Linked DNA regions of Homo sapiens: regions 1 and 3 are each linked to region 2. The links come from fine-mapping of genetic effects on gene expression. A gene starts in region 2. Each other region holds a variant in brackets. All regions are shown on one strand. Distances are from middle to middle.

Region 1 (8,178 bases), 170 kb after region 2:
AGATCACAGTTGTGAGTGTCTGAGATGCTCAACTTCCAGAAAGTTCAGAGAAAGTTAAGGAGAAGTCCAGTGCTGGGAGTACCTGGGCATTTGACTCACAGGCGCTCCTCCGGGGCTGGATGGTCCACAGGGTGCCATGGAGAAAGCAGGGTCCCCAGAGTCCTGGGGCTCTGTCCCTGCTTGGCTCATGGAGTGTCTTTCCCTTTTGGGTCAGCTCTCCCGTCTGTCATTAGAGCAAGAGGCTTGAGTCAGCTGAATGACAGAGCAGACTCAGCTACCAGGGAGAGTTTTCTTGAGGAGCCAGTGACACAGTCATAGGCCATGGAGTCTGGAGTTGCTTTCCCAGGGCTCCTGTCTGTCACTCTGAGCAGGGTCAGGCAACATCTGCCCATGTTACCCTCAGAGTACTCATGCCTGGGGTCCACCCTGAATTCACAGAGCCCTGCAGAGATCAATGGACCGAACCAGCGCTTTCTCAGCCCCTCCCCTTTCAGGAGTTTGTAGAGCCTGTTCAGCAACTTTCTTTTGCCCTTTTCAGGCTGGTACAATCCCTGGTCCTCTTCCTGGCCAGACTTTGGACCTCCCACTCAGAGGTTTCTGTCTCCATCATTCTGACCTGCTGCTTGTCCACATGTGGGCCCCAACTCCACTTATCCACCTAGGACTTGGTAAAGTGCAAATCTGAGTATGCTGCTTCTTTACTGAACACCCTTCAATGGTTTGCCAAGTCTTTAGCATGTGGCACATGATGTCCTTCACACCCTGCTCCCTGCCTTGTTCTTTGGCCTTGTGCCTCCTTATTCCCCCCGCCTGCCTGCCCCCGGTCCCCCTCCCCACCCCACCGCCAAGAGCCAATCCTGATCATACCGACTGAAACCCTCCATGATCTCTCACTCCCATGCCTTTGCACATGCTGTTCCCCCTGCCTTGCCTGGAACGGCTCCTCTTTTCTTGCCTGGTTGACTCCTAGTGGTTCTCTAGTAATTGTAATTTTTTTCCTGACTGTCTTTCTGCTCGTTTGTGAGTGGTGGAAACACATCTTGTCTTCTTATCTTTGATGTCTAGTGTTCATTATGGTGTTAAGCATGCAGTGGGAATTCCATGATGTCAACGCAGTGTGCTGTATTCCAGCTCCAACGTCTAATGCCAACTGGCTTCAGGCCCTGTCTCTCTCGCCTGGACCACTGAGGAGCTCCCAGTGAAGCTCTCTGTCTCCAAACCAACCCTCCCGCCAAGGCCAATCACCTTTGTAAAACAGAAGCTGACTGTGTCGTTCTATTCCCTATAAATCTCTAGTGGTTCTCCATCATTTGAAGCAAGTTTAAGCTTCTTCACTTGTAACCAAGCAGGGGCCCTTCAGGAGCTCCTGACTTCTCTCCTCACCCCATTCCTCTTATACCTGTGTTTCCAAACGTTCTCAGTTCACGGTGCCCTTAGTGACTCAGTAATGTCTTCGTAGCGCTCCCCAGGCCAAAAGAAGAACCCCACAGTCTCATTTCTAAGTAGATAAGTTCAAACAACTTTATAAGTATACATGTTCTAGCAAGTTAGTGGACATTTGAAGAAATAATACACATAAACTGAAAGCAGTTCCTACAGTGCCTGACAGATGTTGCTGTATTTGTCACGAATGTGTAAAATACCATAGCCCAGGAAGCCCCTGTGAGTTCACTGTGGCACCCTGGGGTGTCTCAGCACACAGTTTGGGAACCACAGCCTTTCATTCTTGCTGTGAAAAAGTTATTTATGGTTCCCCAGATGTGCAGTATTCCCCCTGCTCTGCCTCTTTGCAAGTATTTACCCTCTAAAGTGCCGGCTGCCCTCTTGTTAGTTTGGAAAACTTCAGACAGTCGGGTCACCTGCCCCTCTTTGTGAAGGCTTCATGGACCCTTCGCTCCTTGTAGTTTCTGTGGCACCTGGTCCTTTCCTCTACTGACCTGCATCACCCTCTGTTTATTGATAAGCTCCTGATCGCTCTGCAAGTTCTCTCAAGACAAAGCCCATCTTATCTGTCCGTGCATCCCTGAGAAGCTAGCAGAGCGCCTCACCCTTAAGAGCAAGTGGAAGGATGGTTTTAAGCTGCCTTTCCAGGACTGGGAAATCATTTTATCCTCTTGGCTTCCCTATTACTCCTCCTGGCAGAAGGAGCTTTCAACTCTGAAGCCAGACTTGAAACCTCAGAATCCTTTTTTCTCTTTATCCACATTTATCTTGCTTCCAAAATTCACCCAGCCCCTGGTCATTTTCTAAAACTTGGGGCCTGCTCTATTTCACTCCTACCACCCTGGAGAGGTGCCCCCTGCAGAGGTGCCCTGTTGGCTCCATCAGCCATGGGCCTGCCTTTGTGGCTGGCCCCAGCCAGTCTCAGGTCTAGCGGGGCAAAGAGTCCTCTGTGGGGAAGCTCAGCATACAGAACCCTCAGATCACCTCCCACTTCAACCTGGTGATTCTGCCAAAAACTTCATTTGAACTAGAGTTCCCATGATGTGATGACATCAAGACATGTCGTCCAGATCCCCCTTCTGGGAAGGACTTGCTGTCCAGCAGCCGAGACTGTGGTCAGCAGGGAGCCTCCAGCTGTTAGCTCCTTCAGGGCCAGCCTCAGCTGCTGAGATCCATGTCACTGGGGTCACCCCCTTCCTGGTAAAGCCCACATCCAGTGGCCGGGCTGAGTAGGAACACAGAGAGGTGGCATTTTGTCCTACTGGGGGATGACTGACAGCTTTCTCCTCCTTCCCTTCACTGATCCCTAGTAAACATCTTGCCCCTCAAACCCCATCTCTAGAAACTGACCTGCAAGACATGGCTTTAAGCAGCTTACAGGCCATTAGCAAGGGTAACAAAAGGATAACAAACATGTCTTCGCCTGGCAACGAAGGCTTTCCAGTGTGTGATGATGACTGGCCAATCCATCTGTGTCCCTCTCTCCAGCCACAACTTCCATTCCCCCAACCATTCCCACCTCAAGGGCTTTTCTCTGGCTGTTTTTACTGAGTGGAACATTCTTTGCCCTCACCTCCCCCTTATTCATTCTTCAAGACCTACTTCCTCCTAGAAGCCTTCTCTGCCTTCACTGGTCCATGATTCTACCCAGAATCCTGTTTCCTGTTCTTTCTGGGTTTCCTGTTCTTCTGGGTTTCTTTCTGGGTGTCCTGTCCTTCTCTTGTAGAAGTCAGCCACTATACTACCTGGCATTCTTGAGCAACTTGGCCCATGTCTGGGTTTTTCTCCTAAATTAGATGTCAGCTTTCTTTGGGAAAAGAGACATGAATGATACATTTTCTGGAGGGGATGGGTAGTCTCTCCCACTGCCATGAGCTCCATGCTGTACACGTAGCAAAGACTGAAATGTCTGTTGAGTGGACAACATCTGGAGCAGGGCCAGCAGTGAGCACTTCAAGACATGGGGAAACCATCCCCTCTGACTTTGTGCCATTGGAAGACATGGACATAGACCCCCAAAGAGTGTGGGAAAGGGCAAAAGGAAGAAGGGGGACACACCTTCCAGAAAGAATGGAGAACCGATGGTAGAAAGAGCATTGCATTTCGAGTTACAGGATGGTGAATTTGGACCAATCCCTTGGATACCTGGGTCACTGTCTCTATATCTGCTAGATTTCCCAAGTATCAGGGGAATAAACGCAGGTCTCACTTCCCTTCTTTAGGGATCTTCTTGCCTACTGCTGGGAATATGCTTGGTTGGTCCCTGGGTTGGTTTCTAAGTGGTGAGAGCAGGGGGTTAATGAGGGCTCCAGTCACACGAGCCAGCCTGAGGGAGGCCAGAGAACCAGCTCCACCAGGAGAGTCCACAAGCATGAAGAGACCCCACTGTGATTCTCCATGCCCTGCCCTTCTCCCACACCATCTTCTGCACACTTTCCTAACCACCCCAACCCAGCCACACCCATGGAAAACATGCAAAATGCTTGCTCTGCAAAGGACTGGGTCTGCAGCAATGGTGTGGTGCGTGGGTGGTGGCACGGTAGTCCCAGGAGGCCTCCTGCTGCTAAGGAAAGCCCCCAGGCTTGGCAGCCTGGAGAGGCAGGGTCAAGCTGTGCTCTACCTCTCAAGAATGGCGCTGGGGCAGCTATTCTCCACGCTTTCTGGAAGCAGGCAGGAAGATAGCCTCCCCCCTGGCCCTCAGCTTCTTCATCTATAAGATGAAGTGGTCCTTCTCATCCTGGTGAGTTATGACTCTGTCAAGCTACAATAAAGCTTTCTCCAAAACAGAGCTATGGCTAAAGGAGAGAACTGGGCAGCAAGGGGGAAAAATATCTGAAAGAAACCTGTAATGATAAACCTCCCTACTCTATTGAATATACCCACCCATCTAATTTATTCAGTTAATAAAACTTAGTCCCCAGAGGGGGACAGGCAGAGGTAAGCTACAAACCAATCTGCCAGTGTGAGCATGGGTATATATGTATATCTCATAACAATAAAAAAAGAGTAATTAAGAGATGTATTGAAGTGTGCAGAAATCCTGAAGGACACTGAAGATTACAATTCAAGTTACTGTTCTTGGTGCAAATGTAATTCAATGGGGAACAGATAAATAAAAATAAAGAAAAAACAAATTCAGAACAGATGTTAGGCAAGCAATTTTTTTCACAGTAAGAATCATAAACATGAAGAACAGCCTATAAGGCAAAGTTGTTGATGCAAACAGCATCAAGCTACTAAATAAATAGTTCGATGGCCCTGCAGGGACAAAGGAACATTAAAATAGTCATTTGGCTGTCCCTGAATATTTTTGCCCACACGTTATGCCCAGGCATGTATATTCGGGGGTATTGAAGGGAGCTGTGTGTGTGTGTGTGTGTGTGTGTGTGTGTGTGTGTGTGTGT[C/GTGTGTGTC]TATTCCATAGAATATGTGCAGGACATATATTTGTGAGAGTACATGGCAAAATCATCTCTCCCCAAATGATGTGTGGGCTTAGAACAGGAATACACGGTCTGGGAAAAAGCTAATGTCACTCCTGAAAAGACAGTGAGGCCAGGGGAGGAAGCCCAGTGCCATGGGAAGAATGTGCTGTCCAGGACTAGGTATAAAAAGCCCAGATATGCAACTCTGAAAGAAGAGAAAATTTAATGGCAAAAGAATTTCAGACACAGTGGGAGAGAAATCAGAGGCAGGGAAAAAATAATAAAGCACTGATCATAATACTTTAGAGATGGAGGGAAGCTTCAAGATGATCATTCTAGCCCAACCCCCTCATTTCATAGCTAGGAAAATGAGGCCCAAAGAGGGGAGAGGACTGGATGATGTGTGCTGTCTCCCCTTACCCAGGCGGAGGAGTCCCTGGAGACATGAGGGTGAGAGGACCCATGTGCAGGACTCAAGAAGCTCACCCCGAGCTGGTGAGGTATGGGGCTTCTGAATTCGGCAGACTCCCCAAGATGCAGGCTGGCTACAAGAACACCAAGGAGCAGTGGAATCCCAGTTGGAATCCCTGATACTTGGACAGTCTGCCCTGGGAGGGCTCTGAGAGCTCCTTTGAGTCTCATGTCAGACCTGTGAGATAGGTAGGTGCTCAAGTTTTTTTGTTTGTTTTGTTTTGTTGTTGTTGTTGTTGTTTGTTTTGTTTCTGAGACAGAGTCTCACTCTGTCGCCCAGGCTGGAGTGCAGTGGCATGATCTCAGCTCACTGCAACCTCCGCCTCCCAGGTTCAAGCTATTCTCCTGCCTCAGCCTCCTGAGTAGCTGGGATTACAGGTGCGCGGCACCATACTAGGCTAATTTTTGTATTTTTTTAGTACAGACGGGGTTTCGCCATGTTGGTCAGGCTGGTCTCGAACTCCTGACCTCATGATCCACCCGCCTCGGCCTCCCAAAGTGCTGGGATTACAGCGGTGAGCCACTGAGCCTGGCCTCAAGTATTTTTTAAAGGGAAGAAAATGATAAATGACTCATTCATTCTAGTCCCATCAGTAGGGATAGCTGAGCTAAGACCAGAACCCAGATCTGGCTCCTAATCCAGTGCTCTTTCTGGTACGGCCAGCTGACCCTAAGAATGAGGTTATGGGAGGTATCAGCTCTTCGGGAGTAGGATATGAGGCAGTAGCCCAATAAGACTCCAATTAATGACTTGGGTGAGTGGAGCCCAGCTAGTGTATCAGGAGAACATGTCCCTTATCTTCTCTTTTATCTTTTGGATCCCAAGGTGGCCTTACACAGTGTAATTCAATTTTTTACTTTGATGGGCTAACTACTGAATTGATAGAGCATAAAAGCCACTGATGGGGAAAGAGTATAAACTCCCCTTATCCAACCCTCTATTTTAATATGAGACTCTCCCCCTAATTCCTTTTATTTGTCTCCAGTAAAATAGTACCATTACCCAAATTAGCCAAATAGCAAGACCTTCCTGTTTGAAGTTTCCTTGGAGACAAATCTGACATGAAAGACATGTACTTAGAGATGATTCTTCTGTTCACGCAACAGATATTTACTGAGCATCTATTATGTGTCAGTCACCATTCTAGGCACTGGAAATAGCAGCACAAACAAGAGAGCAAGTCCCTACCCTCGTGAAGTTTGCATTCTACCAGGAAAGCAGGTCAACCAACAAATAATTATGTTACGTATTGTTATGGCAAACGTCCTAAGGCAGGACTGTTTGGAATGTTGAAGAAACAGCAAGAAGAGGCAGTGGAATGGAAAGAGCTTTGGATTAATAAAAAGAACCTGTGCAACTCTGCTCACACCTCTTACTAGCCACACGCCCTTTTCATTCTAGTCACTCATGTTTCTGTATGATTGAGGATAATGCAACTAGCCCGGCCAAACTCTCAGGGATGTTATTGGGATGGCCATGGGAGATACTATATTGGAGGGACATGATCCACACTGAGTGCTGGAAAACACTTTCAGATTATTAGCAATTAATATGTAAGTGGCCTTAGGGAACAAATATATATATATAAATAAATAAATATATATATATTATAATCATAGGGCAAGATGGATAGCCCATAGAGTTCTCCCACAGGTCCGTAGAGGTCCCATAAAAGGATGCCCACTGCAGGGTTGCTTGCTGAGGGCCACTGGGTATCTCCTCCTGGGACAGTGGACAGGTGAAGTAGGTACAGGCATCCGTGGCATGTCAGGCAGCCATGGGAAGCAGCAGACTCAATGGGAACTCTGTGCTGGACCTTGAAAGCACAGTGCTAAATGAAAAAACTAAGGAATAGAATGAGATCTACGGCAGTACTATTGGCATAAACTAAGGATAATATCCACGAAATGATAATGCACAATTTGCAAGAACATGTGAAAAAAAAACACATTAAACACAATTGGAATGGTTGACTATTGGGGATGGGAAGGGGAATGAGAGAACACTGGGAATAAAAGGAAATAAATAAACAAGCAACACAGGCAGCAGTGCGTTCCCAGCCTCTCCATAGCACTGCAGGATAAAAACATCCCCCAAAACATCAACTCAAAATGGAGGTAATTAGTAATTACTGGTTGTAATGTTGATAATTCACAATGGTGAAGTAAACTATTTCTATTAATGGTTGTCTTTTATGGGGAATTCTTTAGGAGTAAAATGCTGGTATTTATTAGATCAGTGTTTTCTCTCAAAGCCTGTTCTCCATATCCTAGTCCCAAGAAATACTCTGGGGGGAAAAATGTTCTGTGGTCAAATAAAGACTGCATCCTGGCCGGGCGCGGTGGCTCACGCCTGTAATCCCAGCACTTTGGGAGGCCGAGGCGGGTGGATCACGAGGTCAGGAGATCGAGACCATCCTGGCTAACAAGGTGAAACCCCGTCTCTCCTAAAAATACAAAAAATTAGCCGGGCGCAGTGGCGGGCGCCTGTAGTCCCAGCTACTCGGGAGGCTGAGGCAGGAGAATGGTGTGAACCCGGAAGGCGGAGCTTGCAGTGAGCGGAGATCGCGCCACAGCACTCCAGCCTGGGCGACAAAACGAGACTCTGTCTCAAAAAAAAAAAAAAAAAAAAAAAAAAGACTGCATCCTAAATTTCTCACTTGGAGATTGTCGAAGGACATTGCTGCATGAAAGGTTCGGAGTCTTTCTACACTGAAGAGACCTGTGTTCCTTTTGCTATTCCCCATGTAACAATTATTACTGTCAGTGGAAACGATGGTCTCAAGGACACACTGCGGGAAACACCCCATTCGATTGTTGGAGGGTGGGAGGTGGAGATTCCGGATTCCAG
Region 2 (8,178 bases):
CTGGCTAATTTTTTGTATTTTTAGTAGAGATGGGGTTTCACCATGTTGGCCAGGCTGGTCTCGAACTCCTGACCTCAGGTGATCCACCCGCCTCGGCCTCCCAAAATGCAGGGATTACAGGCGTGAGCCACTGTGTCCGGCCTCATGTATTTTATTGGTTATTGGTTGCACTAGGAATTACCAGCAACATCTTAATTTATAAAAATCCAGTTTGGATTAATACCAATTTAATTTCCACAGAATATAAAAACTGCTTCTCTATGGCTTCACTTTCCTTCCCCATTTCCTTCTGCTGTTATTGTCACAAATTACATCTTCAAAACATTGTCCATCAACTTATATTTGTAATTACTGCATTATGTAGTTGTCTTAAATCAGATGATGGGGGTTACAAACAAAAAATACGTTTATACTGTCTTTTTCATTTACCTGTGTAGTTACCTTTACTGGTGCTTTTCTTTCTTCATGAGAATTCCAGTTGCTGTTTAGTGTCTTTCACTTTCAGCCCAAACGACTCTCTTTAGTGTTTCTCCCAGTGCTAGCAACTAACGGGCTCAGCTTTAGTTTATCTGGGAATATCTTAATTTCTCCTTCATTTCTGAAAGATAGTTTTGCTGGATATAAAATTCTTGGTTGATTCTTTTCACATTTTGAATACATCATCACACTACCCTCTGCATGCATGGTTTTTGATGAGAAGTTAACTGTTTTTATTTTATTGTTGATTCCTTGTGCATGATGAGTTGCTACTTTCTTGCTGCTTTCAAGATTCTCTTTGTTTTCAAAAGTTTGATTATGATGTGTCTAGGTGTAGATCTATTTGAGTTTTTCCTACTTGGAATTCATTAAGCTTCTTGGATGTGTAGATTAATGTTTTTCATCAAATCTGAGAAATTTTAGCCAAAATTTCTTCATATATTCTCGCTTTCCTTTCTCTCTCTCTCTTCTCCTTCTAAGACTTCCATTTTGTGTTATTGGTATATCTGATGGTGTCCCACAGGTCTCTGAGGCTCTTTTCATTTTTCTTTTTCGTTTCTGTTCCACAGACCAGATAATCATCAATTGATCTATCTTCAAGTTTGCTGATTTTTTTTTTCTTTCGCATGCTCAAATCTGCTGCTGAACCCTTCTAGTGAATTTAACATTTCAGTTATTGTACTTTTTGGCTCCAGAACCTTTATTGGTTCCTTATTATAATTTCTGTGTCTTTATTAATATTCTGTTTGGCAAGGCATCATTCTCATCCTTTCTTTTACATTTTTAGAGATGGTTTCCTTTAGCTCTGTGAACATATCAAAAATAGCTGATTTACACTCTTTGTCTACAAAGTTCAGCATCTGGGTTTTCTTAGGAACAGTTTTTATTGATTGCTCTTATTTCCTTTGTATGGGTCTTACTTTCTTGTTTCTTTGCAAGTCACATAATTTTTAGTTGAAAATTGGACATTTCAAACAATGTGCCAACTCTCAAAGTCAGATACTCCTCTCTCCTCAGGGTTTGATTGTGCTTATTTTAGTATTAGGTTGGTGCAAAAATAATTGCGGTTTGCACCAACCTAATAGTTGCTGTTTAGTAACTTTTTTGAACTAATTTTTTAAAGTGTGTATCTTCATTGTGTGTGACTATTGAAGTCTCTACTTGGTCAACTAATGATTAGATGGAGATTTCCTTAAACACCTGGAACCAATATGTCTCCTAGTCTTTGCCAAGGGGCTCTGTATGCACTTTGGGGTATGTCTTCAATTTTCATTAGGCAGTTTGCAACTCTGCATAGCTTTTATTTCCTGCTAGCACAGAGCCTCAGTGTCAGCTAGTAGTGAGAGGTTAGGATCTTCTCAGGTGTTAACAGAGCATGTGCACAGCCCTACACATGCACATGGCCTTCTAAATTCCTGAAAATATACTGGAGCTTTTCAAAGCCCCTATGGACATCTCTTCCTTCAACGTTTCCTTTTACATTTCTTTGTTAGTCTATTGTTTGCCCCTACCGTTACCTATTGCCTCAGCCAGTTACAATGTTAAAATATTTGACAAATCACTCCCTCTTCAGGTGGAAAAACCTTTAGGACTGAGCTAGTTCCAAAGAGGTTGAATAAAGACAACCCTTTTCAGGATTTTTTTCCAGGGACCCACTAGATAGGTTAAATAATGACTCTTCTTTGGGAATGAGACTTTGAAGTAGCTCCAGCCCTGTCTCCTCCCTCTGGTACAGGTACTAGGAACGTGGGCTGTAAGTTTTCAAGGCTGCCATGGAACTAGAGATGGGGGTGCGATAGGACTAGGGTAAATTAAAATACTATAAATATTGCTGTTCTTACTGAGAGTTTGCTGTTTTTCCTGACTAAATGCCAGATGGGTTGCTGCAAACCTGTGACTAATTTCTAGGGCTCTAAGAAAGTTGATTCTGACAATTTTTGTCAGTTCTTTCCTTGCTTCCTTTATGGAAGGGCAAACTTGCTGGGATACTTAATCCACCATTTTCACTGACATCACTCTTCCTTTCTTTTTTAAAAAATGTTATTTTATTGCAAAAAAATATGGAAACCACAACTAAAATTAACTTTTTTTTTGAGACGGAGTCTTGCTCTGTTGCCCAGGCTGGAGTGCAACGGTGCGATCTTGACTCACTGCAACCTCCGCCTCCCTGGTTCAAACGATTTTCCTGCCTCAGCCTCCCAGGTAGCTGGGATTACAGGCACACACCATCACACCTGGCTAATTTTTGTATTTTTAGGAGAGATGGGGTTTCACCAAGTTGGCCAGGCTGGTCTTGAACTCCTGACCTCAAGTGATCCACCCACCTCGGCCTCCCAAAATGCTGGGATTACATGCGTGAGCCACTGCACTCTGCCTAACATTTTAAATTAAAAATTAACATTTTAGGCTAGGCGTGGTGGCTCACTGTAATCCCAGCACTTTAGGAATCTGAGGTGGGAGGACTGCTTGAGGCCAGGAGTTCAAGATCAGCCTGGGCAACAAATGAGACAGTGTCTCTACAAAAAAATATAAAAATTATCTGGGCATGGTGGCACGTGCCTCTAGGCCCAGCTACTTGGGAGGCTAAGGTGGAAGGTTCGCTTGAGCCCAGAAGTTCCAGGTTGTAGTGAGCTATGACTGTACCATTATACTACAGCCTGGGTGACAGACCAAGACCTTGTCTCTAAAACAATAACAAAAACAAAATTAACATTTTATACAATGAAAACATTAAAATCACAATTAAAATCCAAGAGAAAACCCTTCATTCAATTTCCTAATTAAATAAATTCATTTTCATTTGTCCATGTTACTATCTAGTCTTTATCCATACACTTATTATTTACATTTTTGTAGTAATAGTACAGGTAATTTTTTTTTTTTTTTTAAAGATGGAGTCTCACTCTGTCGCCCAGGCTGGAGTGCAGTGTCATGATCTCCGCTCACTGCAATCTCTGCCTCCCGGATTCAAGCGATTCTCCTGCCTGTCTCCCGAGTAGCTGGGATTACTGGCGCCCGTTACCACGCCCGGCTAATTTTTACGTTTTTAGCAGAGACGGGGTTTCACCACGTTGGCCAGGCTGGTCTCAAACTACTGACCTCAAGTGATCCGCCCGCCTTGACCTCCCAAAGTGCTGGGATTACAGGCGTGAGCCACTGTGCCTGGCCTATAGTTAAGATTTTTATATTCATTTTTAGTGAATGTTATACCGTATACCGTAAGTACTCTCCCCCCACAATCCTTCTGCCTCTCATCTTCCCTTTTCCATTTTCCTAATACCTCCTACTGCCTCCTCTCAACTACCCTTGTGTGTTTCTTCATCTTTCTCCGTGCTTATTCAAAAATATCCTGCCACACACACACACACAGGCTTCTCTTTTTGTTATTCAGACATTTAAAAAAATTAATTCTTGATCATTCAACTTGATTATTTAGACATTTCTGTACAGCCATCTTTTCTCGTTTACCACCACATCATGGCTGTCTGCCCCTCTACATCCGCACACGGAGCTCTAACGCATGCTTGTTAAACAGCCTTCGTAATAGTCTTTAAAGATCAACCACACTGTTCCCACGTAACCCTACCTCCCAGGTAGGGTTCCCCCAGTAACACTTTCACACATAACTTATTTACTGTTCCTTTTACTTCTGGAAGATTCCGAGAGGAAAGATTGCTGGGTCAAAGGTCACACGCGTTTTCAATTTTAATAGCTATTCCTGGATTACCTCCTCAAAGGGCTCTAACAACTCGCATTGCTCTCAGCGTGTGAGAGGGTCCTTTGCTCTGAAGGGTCTTCTAAAATATTTGTTCAATCGTTACTTAGCAGGGGCTGGGAGTAACGGATTTTATTTTATTTTATTTTATTTTTTGAGACGGAGTCTCGCTCTGTCGCCCAGGCTGGAGTGCAGTCGCGCAATCTCGGCTCACGGATTTGCTCTTTTAAAGGACATACCCTTTTATGTTTAAATGAAGGAACTCATTGATGCACCGAGGCGAAAGGAACCTTTAATTAAGTGCGTCTTCTATGCGGAGTGATCGCTTTTGTCACTTGTTCGAGGGGTGAGAGCTCCCGTCAGTTGTCCCTGTTTCTGTGAGCCGTCTACGAAGCCCGGGCTTGGCCTGGGCGACGCTGAGCGGCTTTAACCGGCGGCGTCCAGCCGGCTCCGCCAGCGCTGCCGCCGCCCTCGAGGCTCCCTCTGACTGAAGGCGCGCTGAGCATCGCGGCATTAGGGGCTCCTGGTCCCTCAAACATCCAGGGAAGCCATTTTCAGGGACTAGGTACTGACCCCCGCGAGCCGCCACAGCCACAGCCCGCGCTCCGGGCCGAACGCCCGAGCTCAAGAGCTCCCGAGCTTCCGTCGGGCGGCGGCCTCACAGCTGGGGGCCCTGAGGCGGAAGGCGCAGCCGCTCAGCTGCGGACCGGGGGCGTGGCGAGGGCGCACAGGTTCTGTTTTTCGCCGGCCCGGGGCCGCTTTCGGTTTCGTTTCCCGCCGGCGTCTCCACCCTGCGAGAGCCGCCCGCCAGCCAGCGTCCGCCGCCGTCCGCGTCGCGCCACCCGCGGTCCGACGGGAGCAGGCCCAGCGGCCATGGCCCAGGCCGGCGTCGTCGGTGAGGTCACCCAGGTGCTGTGCGCGGCCGGGGGCGCCCTGGAGTTGCCCGAGCTGCGGCGCCGCTTGCGGATGGGCTTGAGCGCCGACGCGCTGGAGCGGCTGCTGCGGCAGCGTGGGCGCTTCGTGGTGGCGGTGCGGGCGGGCGGCGCAGCCGCGGCCCCGGAGCGCGTGGTGCTGGCCGCCTCGCCGCTGCGCCTGTGTCGCGCGCACCAGGGCTCCAAGCCGGGCTGCGTGGGGCTCTGCGCGCAGCTCCACCTCTGCAGGTTCATGGTCTACGGCGCCTGCAAGTTCCTGAGAGCCGGGTAAGGCGCCGCGCCGGGAGCGACGGCGGGCGGAGGTCCTGCGCGCCCTCACGCACTTCCAGCCCGCTTGGGGGTCCTACTTGAAGTTTGAGCAGACAATTCGGTGGCTCTGCCCTGACCTCGCACCGTCATTCACTAAAGCGAGCGTTTAATGAGCACCTGCGGAGTACCTGGCACAGTGCGAGGGACTCAGGGTCGAGTGGGGTCCTCTAGACGCCTGGGGGGAGAGAGTGATTTACATAGAGCATGGTAGTGCCGGGTGGAACACCCGGGTGTGGCCGTGTGGGGTGGGGAGGGAGGGAGGCGGCGGCTTAGGGGAACTCCACGACGCCGCGGGTCGCCCCTTGCCAGCTTTGAGGCCAGACAATGAAGGTTTTCTCTGCCCAGCAGCTGGTAGAGATCTTTAAACCCAGTTCAACCCTATTAATCTGCTTACAAACTGGAAAATGCAGACTCCCTGCCATCGCCCACAAGGTCCTGGGGCACTGGTCCCTGCCCACCCAGGACCCTTCTGTGACTGGAACACCCCCCCCCCCCCGGGCATTTCTGGGAGCCTGGGCATTTCTGGGAGTCTTTGCTCTGCCTGGAATGCCCTTCTTGCTCTTGGTTGGCCCTATTTGTTAATCCTTCAGGCCTCAACCTAAAGATCACATCCCATTTGAGGATTTTTCCTCCCCTTACTCTTGGTCACAGGGAACTGTTTATTTTCCTCATGGCACCCAGCTGCCAGTAGAATAGAAACTCCCTGAGGGCAGAGGCTCCAGCTGTCTCCCCAGCACTTAGCGTCCATGTTCTGTGCATAGCATGTGGCCAGTGGGATGTGTGGAAGGGATTGCTGAGGTTTATGCTAAAGAATTTGGGCCTCACCCTGGAGGTGATGGGGCGGGTAAAATGGCAGGAGAGAGCAACCATCAGGTTTGCGTTTTAGGAAGTCTAAGGTAGTGGTGTGGGTGCCAATTTAAGGGAGGATGTTGTGGGGGAACCACTGGGAAGCTAGTCATCAAGGAGAATTCCTTCCTCCCCTGCTCCCTCCTTTCTTGCTTGCTCCCTGTTTTGTGTGTGTGTGTGTATGTTTGTCTTAATAGAGTAGATATTTCTTGCTCATGTCAGGCCCAGTAGTGAGCATGGGGTGGGGGCCTTGATCCATACAGTCATTCAGGGATGCAGGCTGACTGACCTCCGCTCTGTGCCCCTCAGCACATGGCTCTTGAGGCCAGCCTAGGTTATCAAGTTCGAGGGGGCTGATCGAAAAGAGGGATGCATGGGAGGTTTTTGTGGGCCAGGTCTAGAAGTGGTGGATTTCCTTTCACCCACATCCCATTGACCAGAAGCTGTCTCGTGACCCTGTCTAGATGCAGGGTGACTGGGAAATGCCTCTAGGAAGCAGCTGTCTGGAAGTATCTAGATTAGAGCTTTCCAAGGGCTATGTGTGTGAGAAATTTGGGATAGCTGGTGACGGTGTGATGAGAGGATATGTGAGAGGTGACGACTCTTCAGTCTCTGTTCCTGCGGTGGCCTGGGTGTTGTTCACTGAGAGAGCAAGAGAGGGTTTTAGTTTGGAAGCATGCCCAGGAGGCAGCTGTTCAGGTCAGAAGCTTGGGAGGAAGGCCAGGGCCCCAATGCGCTGGGCTGGTTTGGGAGATATTGGGCGGTGTATGTTGTAGTTGCAGCCCCAGGAGTGGATCAGATCTGAGGTAGCGTCTGAGGCCTGAAAAGAGGCTGAGGGTGGAACTCTGGGGAAATCAGCCTTCAGGGATGAGGCAGTCCAGGGGAGAGCAGGGAACAACAGCCCACGAGGAGGAAGGCACACAGCAAATGGTGGCTGGATAGAGCCACTCATGGGGGTAACTGGTAGATCTGTTTCATGTTCATATTTGGTAAAATAAAGATGGCAGCCCTGTTCTTAAGCTAGTTCCCAAAATGTGGGGTCAGGTCTGACTTGTCTCGGAAATCTGTAGTGTGATATTTACTGGCTCAGATGACCTTGAGTTTTCTTCTTTCTTCAGTTTTCTCTTTTCCTTGTGGTTTACACAGGTGAGTTTCTTGAACCTTCCATTTCTGACTCACTTTAGGGAGAGTGGGTGTGGTTGGCTGCACTTTTCTGCTTCCCCTGTGACTCTGCTTGTCTTCCTGAACCGCAGGGTCAGTTCTTTTAGAAATAGCTCATCAGTCCTGCTGCAGAGCTGGTACGGAGTCCTGGGTGCCTGACTCTTAGTCCTCTACTCAGGAGGCATTGAGCCTGGTGGTCTAGGGCACAGTCCCAAGATCCAGCCCACCTTGTTTCAACCTGGGCTCTGCTCCTTGCTAGCTGATGGCTTCGGGCAAGTGACTTTACCTCCAGGTCTCAGTTCCCTCATCTGCAAAGTGGAGTTAATGATATTACTACCCTCACAGGCTGGTTGAGGACTGAATGATTAACTCATAAAACATTTTGGCAATCCCCGATATTTGGCAGTTGCTCAATAAATTTTAGTAGTCATTATCATTGTTACCATCAGTCATCGTTACACTTATTAGATATATTTGGCTCTGGCAGCACCAAATTATTTGCCCCTCTTCTGGAATGTTCTTCCTTTCTCTTGCTGTCTCCTCCTCACCCTTTAAGTATTCCACTCAGGCTTTATGCCATCCAGCATGCTCCCCTGATTTCTTCCCCAGTTCTCTCCCAGCCCTGACTGGCTCAGGTGCCCTTCCGCTCTGCGCTGACAGATTCTGACAACAGCTGACGTTGCACTTTCCACTCCGTATCAGAGTCTCCTCTATGTCTGTCACCTCCGCTAGATGAGG
Region 3 (8,178 bases), 26 kb after region 2:
CATTTTGTACTGAGAGGAATTTTCGTCATAACTAGTCTCCCACATTATCTTGATTTTGATATTTTTATACCTCAAAACTGATCTGAAAAAGCAGTTTCCTCTACCTCTGGGAACTTTTTCTAAAATGTGCATGCCACATTTACTATTCGCATCTCCCAGCTATATGTTCTCAAGCTGAGGGACCTGTGTCTGCTTGGCTGGTGGGATTTTCAGTCTGCTGCTGTTTTTCTTCTGTAGGATCCTGTGCTCTGAGTCAGCCAGTACCTTTCACTCTCATTGTCTGAACTTTAACGCCATGACTTACGGTGCTACCCAGGCTCGCCGCCTCTCCACGGCCTCCTCTGTCACCAAACCTCCACACTTCATCCTCACCACTGACTGGATTTGGTACTGGAGTGATGAGTTTGGTTCTTGGCAGGAATATGGAAGACAGGTAAGTGTGATGGAAAGAGGGTGAATGTTTTGTCCTGAGGATCTGTAAGAGAGGAGCCAAATAAGAGCCCCCATATTGTTGCCAGGGGCATCCTTGAGAGAGCTGAGGATCCCCAGGTGCCAGTGTGGCTCACTTGCTTTGGGAGAATTATGGCAAAACTAGATAAGTTGGAATTTATTTGTATGAGCTTTCATCTTTGAAGAGCTTCCATCTGTTGGCTCATGAGAACTGAATGACAAATTTGTAGTGAGATCAAGTTTCTTCATTGGTTTTATTAAATGGGATAGAAAGATGTTTCTCTTGTTGAACAGGTAACTTAACCCCACAGCTGGTGCCTATGTGTGCAAGTGTGTTTGTGTAGCTGTGATATAGAGGTAAAGGCTTTTCAAACTGGTTGTCTGCCATTTCTGCAACTTTACAGAAGGTAGGCAAATATAAGAAAATTGATTTATATCATGTATAGGTTTGGAATCCAAGCCAAATAACAAAAAATAGTTGCTGTCAATTCTTCGCAGGTGTTTGTGGATGGGTCAGATTAAAGGGAGTCCCCTGGTCACTTATAGAAATACAAGTTTAGGCCGGGCGTGGTGGCTCATGCCTACAATCCCAGCACTTTGGGAGGCCGAGGTGGGCAGATCAGTTGAGGTCAGGAGTTCAAGACCAGCCTGGCCAACATGGTGAAACCCCATCTCTACTAAAAATACAAAAATTGGCCAGGTGTGGTGGCGTATGCCTGTGGTCCCAGCTACTCGGGAGACTGAGGTATGAATGAGAATCACTTGAACCCGGGAGGCAGAGGTTGCAGTGAGCAGAGATCACACCACTGTACTCCAGCCTGGGCGAAAGAGCGAGATTCCATCTCAAGTACAAGTTTAGGGAAGGCACCATTGATAAAGAACTCACCCTCCAAAATGAAAATCGATAGGTATTTTGTACTCTTCTGGGTTTCAAGAGGCTATATTGAAGCTTTAGTTTCTTATTCTTAACTGCACTCAGAATGCCCTTTAACTCTGGTGATGCTCTAATGTAAGCTCCATGAGGGCAGGGACTTTTGTCTTTTCTTTTGCCCCATCGTATCCCGTGTGTGGAATGATGCATAGCCAGTCCTCAGGAAATAGACATTGGCTGATGGAAGGAGGAGGGTGTTACTGACAGTGTCTGTTGGTCAGCTGGAGATGGTCACTCTCAGCGATGGCCTTGCTGCCTTGCACTACTTCCTTTCCCCTCTCCTCCCCTGCTCCCCTCTTGCCAGCACCAGCCTCTCCTTGCTTGCTGCTCTGCCCTGCCTGCCTTTCCCACCTGTCTCCCTCCCGTCGTGGGCGACCTGGGACTCTCTCTGACCTGCCCTGTGGGACTCATCCAGATAAGCTCTCTGGGTTTGGTCAGGAGCGTGAGGGGAAGAGGCTGGCGTGACATGGAGGAGGGGGAGAGGATGACTGCCCAATCATGCTCCGGGAATCCCGGCTCTCCTGGAGATGGAGGGACAGATGGCAGGCGCAACACACTTAGCAGATGTGACCATCACGTTCATTCTGTTTGGGGATCTGTCCGGCTTCTCGGAGGAGACCGCTGGTTGCTGAATGAGATGACACAGGGCTCTGGGCAACCCATGCAAAAGTAGGGTTCCCCGGTGGTGTCTCATCACAGCTCTGGTTGTTGGGGCCGGTCTCCTCCAGTCAGCCAACACCTGGAGCGTGCCCCTTTCTTTCCTGTGCTCCTCTTCCTCTGTGGCAGTGCAGAAACTCATGGCGAGCAGTTTGAGAATGTCTGGGGATGAACCGCGTGTGGATGTTATTGATATGCCACGTGCTAGTGGGGGCGTAGAAACACATGTAGGCTTGGTGGCTTCAGGCTGGACAGCCTAGGATGATCTGGTTTGTCTTGTCCTCCCTTTCCTACACGTTTCTGGTATAACCCCACATTTAGGTTTCTTTTTTAGTTTTCTGTTAATTGCCACTTCAAAACAGTTTTCTCTTGATTCCCAGAAAAGCTAAGTTTTTTCTGTCTGAGCTCAAGAAGTACTCCAACATTTCATGTCAAAATCAGACACCTGCTGGTCCTGCCACAGGACATGTGGGAATCTGTCATTCCTTCCACATCTCACTTGGTGCCTCCAGGTGCTAAACCGAGACCTTTCTCAGCTTAACACATAATATGGCTGCCATTGTTGGTTTCTCCTTCCAAACCTCCCACTGAGGGCAAAAAAACTCTTTGCTTTTTGCTTTCTGCTCATCCACCTGCATCTTCCCTCCCTCTGTGACCATCCATCTGCAGGGATTTTGACTGGAGGCCTGGGTCGGGGCAGGACGCCTGCATCTGACTGCTGCTTCTCCTCTCTGTTTCCCTGACTCAGAGCTTCATTTCCTCAGGCCCAAAGGGGAGGGATTGTTTTCTTTTCCTTTCCTCTTGTTGTCAGAAAGGGATTTTTATGCCACATCCTCTTCCTCCCGGACTCTAGTCTAATGGCTTGGTTTTGAAGGAAGACAGACTTCAGAGAGAGAAACTTAGGCGCCGCTATGAGACCGTAAACTAGGAGGCTGCTTTACAAACCATTATACCTCTTACACCCGCCCCTTATGGTCCTCATGGGGCCAACTCATGTCATCCCTCGGGCTTGGGCCTTGGCTCAGGCATCTTTTTCTTCCAAGAAACCTTTGCTGGGTCTCACCCTTCCTTGGTCATTCTTAGTTACCCATCTCAGCGTCTAGAGCACCCGTGAGACCTGTGTGGGACCTTGTGCTTGAGGCTTTGAAATATCTGGGTACTTTTTTTTCCCCTTCTCCATTGCTGGACTCAGTTGCGCAGAGGCATGGGTGACTCTTGTCTTGTCTCACTTTTGTTCTGTTAGTAACACCTAAAGCTTGTGACCCAGGAGAACTAGGATGGTAGCAGTAGGGGGAGCAGGAAAATTGACAGGGACAGAGGGAGTTAGTTGGTTATAGGTTGAATAACTTTAATTTTAGTTGTCAGTGTAATCTCAAATTTAATAAGAACGGTGATGATAATAGTAACATTTATTGAGTATGTTTTGTTCTGGGCACTGTACTAAGTGCTCCACATGCCTTATTTAAATGATTTCTCCAGCCCTGTGAGGACAATATAGTCCTGTTGTATAAAGGGATGAATATGGCCTAAGTACTATTATTCATATTATAAGCTTGAGATAACGGAGGCTCAGGGAGGTTAAGATAACTTGCCAAAGTTATAGAGCCAGCAGGTTTGGGAGCCAGAATTCAAACTCACTCCAGCTGAAGCTACGAGATTTCCTGTAGGTAATTGTGGAAGGATAGGGATTGAAATGGATAATTTAAAAAATAGATGAATGCTCCTAGGGACCAGAAAAAGAAAACCGCAAGGAAGAGGACCGAGCTCTGATTAAAGGATGGTTGCAACGTGAATAGACGGGTAAGACCAGCCTGGCTTGGGCTGCCCAGTCAAGCAGCACTCCAGAAGTCGCTGTTGCTGTTCTGCCGGCATTTGAATGGCTGCCGTGTCCTCTGTCCTAGGTGACTTGAGTGCCCTCCTCTCCGTTGCTCCCATCCCTGTCTTCCTGCTCAGCAGGACCCATATTTACTGCATTGTGTTTGCTAGGGCAGCTTCAGGAGACAGTCATGTTGCCTCCATTCTGTGCCTCTCTCTCCTGCCATACCATGCTCCCTGGCCTCCATCTTCCCCACCACAGGACTGTCCACCAGGAGCACCTCTGAAATGTGGCGTGGGTGCCACCAGCGTTTTTCCTCATCACGCAGTTTCTTGCCTTCATAAAGTGTCTGGCTTTCCATCGCAGGGCACGGTGCACCCTGTGACCACTGTCAGCAGTAGCGACGTGGAGAAGGCCTACCTGGCCTACTGTACACCGGGGTCTGACGGCCAGGCAGCCACCTTGAAGTTCCAGGCCGGAAAGCACAACTACGAGTTAGATTTCAAAGGTATCCTGTGCCCTGCCCTCGCCCAGCAGAGCCTGCCTGTGTTGGCTCTGTCCCTACACCTTAACCCTGGAGGAGCCGTGTGCACATACTGAG[G/A]GCCTGGGTGGGTACAGGAAAGAAAAGCAAGGTACCAGGTCCAAGGTAGACCTGGAGACAGATGACACTGGCCCTGTGCAGTGGAGGAAGAACTGCATCAAGGATGTGAGGAGAATGGACCCCAGGAGGGGCAGGAGCCCCAAGTGTGGAGGACAAGCAGGGTCAGCATGCATGTAGCATGGTTGTCCTGCTGTATCCGAGGACTAACCTGAGTCCCTGACAGGTGTCCGAGCAGCTCCGTCGTGCAGTGTCTGCCTTTCACTCCCTGCTGCAGCAGTGCTGCTGTCATCTTTTTTTTGAGACGGAGTCTCGCTCTGTCACCCAGGCTGGAGTGCAATGGCGTGATCTTGGCTCACTGCAACCTCCGCCTCCCGGGTTCAAGTGATTCTCGTGCTTCAGCCTCCCAAGTAGCTGGAATTACAGTCATGAGCCGTCACACCTGGCTAATTTTTTGTATTTTTCATAGAGACGGGGTTTCATCATGTTGGCCAGACTGGTCTTGAATTCCTGTCCTCAAGCGTTCTACCCACCTTGGCCTCCCAGTTTGCTGGGATTTCAGGCATGAGCCACCGCGCCTGGCCTGCTGCCATCTTTTCTGTAGGCGACTTTGGAGTTGATGGGTTTAACGGATGGTAGGACACAGAGTAATTGAAAGTCCCTGAGAAGCAGATTTTCGTGCACTCATGGTGTCCTGAGGCTGGGGCTGAAATGTTTCATCCTGGTTGCCTTACAGAGAGAAATAGGCCACCCTTTGGCCAGTTCCTCCAAGTGGCTGATGTGTGAGAATTTTTTTTTTTTTAAGTTTTAATTTTGTGTAGTTTCTCTTAAGCCATTTCCTCATGAGTGTATCGGTCCAGCTTTATTCAGTTCCGTTTTGCCTGTATTTCACATTTTAAACTCTGAGTCCTTCTGAATGTTCAGCATTTTATAAGGGAGTAAGTGGGCCTTCCTTTAAACACAGTTTATGGTTTTCTTTATTTTTGCAGACGTTTATTCTATGTGGAGTATAGTGAAGTGTCTGGTGAATTATCCTAAAACCACTTTGGCTGTCTGTTTCTGGCCTTGGTTTTGCTTGTGGTTTCGTGGCACTTGTGGTTTTGCTTAGGGTAGATCACTACCCCCTTGACATGCCCTTTACGGTGAAGTTTTTCTCCTCTAGAGTGCGAACTGCCTCTGCTGGAGAGCGCCAGCCACGTGTGGTCTGGTTTGCTTTCCACGGCCTGACACACACCAGTGCATGAGAGGGGACCAGTGAGAGCATAGACGTTAATCAAATCAGGACTGCCCTGAAGGTCAGGACTGTGTGGCAAGCATACATCTGACTGCTGCTGACAGCAATCTGGAATATTTCTTTTAAATATCTGGAAAATATCAAAACAGATAGAAATGTCAGATACTACCTTGATCATTCCCAACCTAGGCCACACCCTGGGGACATAACAGAACCTCATAATAGGGATGGGGAAGAGCACACACGTGCAGTTTATGATTCCTGCAGACTGACCGAAGCCCATTTGAGTGGGCACAATTCTTCTCCTTCTCCTCCTTCTCCTCCTTCTCCTCCTTCTCCTCCTTCTCCTCCTTCTCCTCCTTCTCCTCCTTCTCCTCCTTCTCCTCCTTCTCCTCCTCCTCCTCCTCCTCCTCCTCCTCGTCCTCCTCCTCCTCCTCGTCCTCCTCCTCCTCCTCCTCCTCCTTGTCCTCCTCCTTGTCCTCCTCCTCGTCCTCCTCCTCTTCCTCTTCCTCCTCCTCTTCCTCTTCCCCCTCCTCCTCCTCTTCCTCCTCCTTCTTTTGGTAGATACCAGTATCCATAAAAGAAGCTTGAGATGAATTGGCTTCTTCCCCCACAACTTCACTTCTAAGTATAAAGCAAGTCTCAAAGCAAACTGCCACACATATTTATTAGCTGTTTATTAGGAAGCAAGTACATTTAAAACACACAAAAGAGCCCAAATGAGTTGTTCTGAAGGTTTAGGGATGATTCAGTTCTGCCCTTTTAGGGACTCTTGTCATAAATGATTCACTCAAGGCAAATGCCAGGATTCCAGAGGCAGAATTCTAGCATCCTGTTAGGTGGTGTCTGACGGGGCAGAATTCCCCAAAGACAGGCTGTAGCCTAGGGTATCCTCTGGAAGGGTAAATTAGGGAAAAGACCTCACTTTACTGTGTCCATAGAAGGGTAGGGAATGTGTCTGACACACATTTAGCCAGTCCACGTATCTTAGCTCACTTTTAATTTCACCAGTGAAAGCCATTTAAGATTCATCACAGATGGCCAGTAGGCCAGTAACACCCATTTAAATATGCCAGTGAGAATGGTCTTGATGGGCGGCTGAGTAGTGGGTAACAGAAGGGGTCATGGTTGCTGCATCTGGATCATGGGCTCTGAATGAGAATGTGGATGGACCTCCAGGAATAGTGACCATCTCAGCTGCAACCTAAGAGACACACACTTGGATAACCATCCAGTTTATGCTCAACTGCAATAAGGCTAATTCTGGACACCTATAATTTTTAATATTAAAATGTTTTGTAAATGAAAACAAAATTAGTTGGGCATGGTGTCACAAACCTGTAGTCCCAGCTACTTGGGAGGCTGAGGTGGGAGGATTACTTGAGCTGGTGAGTTCAAGGTCCACTTGAGCAACAAAGCAAAAGACCCCATCTCTTAAAAAAAATGTAAGACTTGAGAGGGTTTTCCTGGCAGGCAAGGACAGAACAAACACTGCTAGGTATTTGTCATTTTTCAACTTGAGGGGCCAGTTCCCCCAACCCCAAATCCTCAGGATGAGTATGGGATTCTTGAGGGTGGGGAAGCAAGAAATTTGTTTATTAAAGATATTATTGGTTTAGAAAGGTTGATGAATACTGCCATAGTTTAACTAAAACAAAGTCATAAAACTTACATTAACTCTGAATCCCACTAACTCAAGACATGGTAGTTTGATCTCAGGCTGGGCTGAGGCTTTTTTATATCCAAGCTGGGAAAAATTGCCAAGCAAAATAATGGTTTAAACAAGATTGGAAGGAACAATTTAAAAGCACTCATGTGTAATTGATATGTCAATTACTAATCATTCCTCTATTCATTAAACCCAGTCTCCTAAGGATACCTATTTTCTTTATGAATATTTGAAATGTGTAAAATGGCCCTATTTTTAACAGACTGATTCTGGGTTTTACACATTTGGATAAGCTTTCAAATCTATCTAATTTGTGTTTATAAAACATTGCCATCCTGTGTGTATGTATATGTATATGTATATTTTTTCACTGGTTATGTTTTTTTTCAGCCTTCGTTCAGAAAAACCTGGTCTATGGCACAACTAAAAAGGTTTGCCGCAGACCCAAATACGTGTCTCCCCAGGATGTGACGACCATGCAAACCTGGTAGGTTGCAGTGGGGGGCTTGGTACTTAGGATGTAATCAGCTGGGGTGTGCTCTGCAGTGGTGACAGAAAACCTGCCTCAGACAGCACCCGGGCACCGTTGGCTTGTACAACGAAGTGCTCCCACACTCTGTTATCGTTTGTCTTCTACTAGTTGGACCAGAGTGGGAATTACCCTGTGGGTAGAAGCTTCGTGATGCATAATTAGAAGGCTGCCTGTTGTGATCTGCGATGATTCTCTGGAGAAGACAGACTCTGAAGGCGAGTCTAGACTTGAAGCCAACCCATCCGTTTGTCTTTTCTGTGGAATCATTGAGTCATAGACTTGAATTTTTTA

Alleles and levels. Alleles are on the strand shown, and positions count from the first base shown. SD is a standard deviation of normalised expression in the study named. Not every link is listed here.
For the expression in subcutaneous fat of the gene that starts at base 4,962 in region 2, GTGTGTGTC is the high allele of the variant in region 1 and C is the other (large effect, 0.80 SD a copy in FUSION).

What was found. PIP is the estimated chance that this variant, and not a neighbour inherited with it, causes the effect.
Region 1: its variant is fine-mapped to the expression of PARP12 in subcutaneous fat (FUSION, PIP 0.95).
Region 3: its variant is fine-mapped to the expression of PARP12 in whole blood (TOPMed, PIP 0.90).

Annotation. Positions count from the first base shown.
Region 1 is chr7:139,889,995-139,898,172 of GRCh38, reverse strand. The region is part of intron 3 of TBXAS1 (thromboxane A synthase 1); the gene reads right to left. Among named protein-coding and RNA genes, the nearest start is that of TBXAS1, 65 kb to the right of the region's middle. The variant C/GTGTGTGTC (reference allele first, on the strand shown) is at 4,848.
Region 2 is chr7:140,059,735-140,067,912 of GRCh38, reverse strand. PARP12 (poly(ADP-ribose) polymerase family member 12) reads left to right here and starts at 4,962. Exons shown (of 12, transcript NM_022750.4): 1 at 4,962-5,391. The coding sequence starts at 5,066. RefSeq lists an enhancer at 4,815-5,024 and a silencer at 5,035-5,354.
Region 3 is chr7:140,033,899-140,042,076 of GRCh38, reverse strand. It overlaps PARP12 (poly(ADP-ribose) polymerase family member 12), which reads left to right. Exons shown (of 12, transcript NM_022750.4): 6 at 238-433; 7 at 4,221-4,362; 8 at 7,746-7,842. Among named protein-coding and RNA genes, the nearest start is that of PARP12, 25 kb to the left of the region's middle. RefSeq lists a silencer at 5,516-5,565. The variant G/A (reference allele first, on the strand shown) is at 4,456.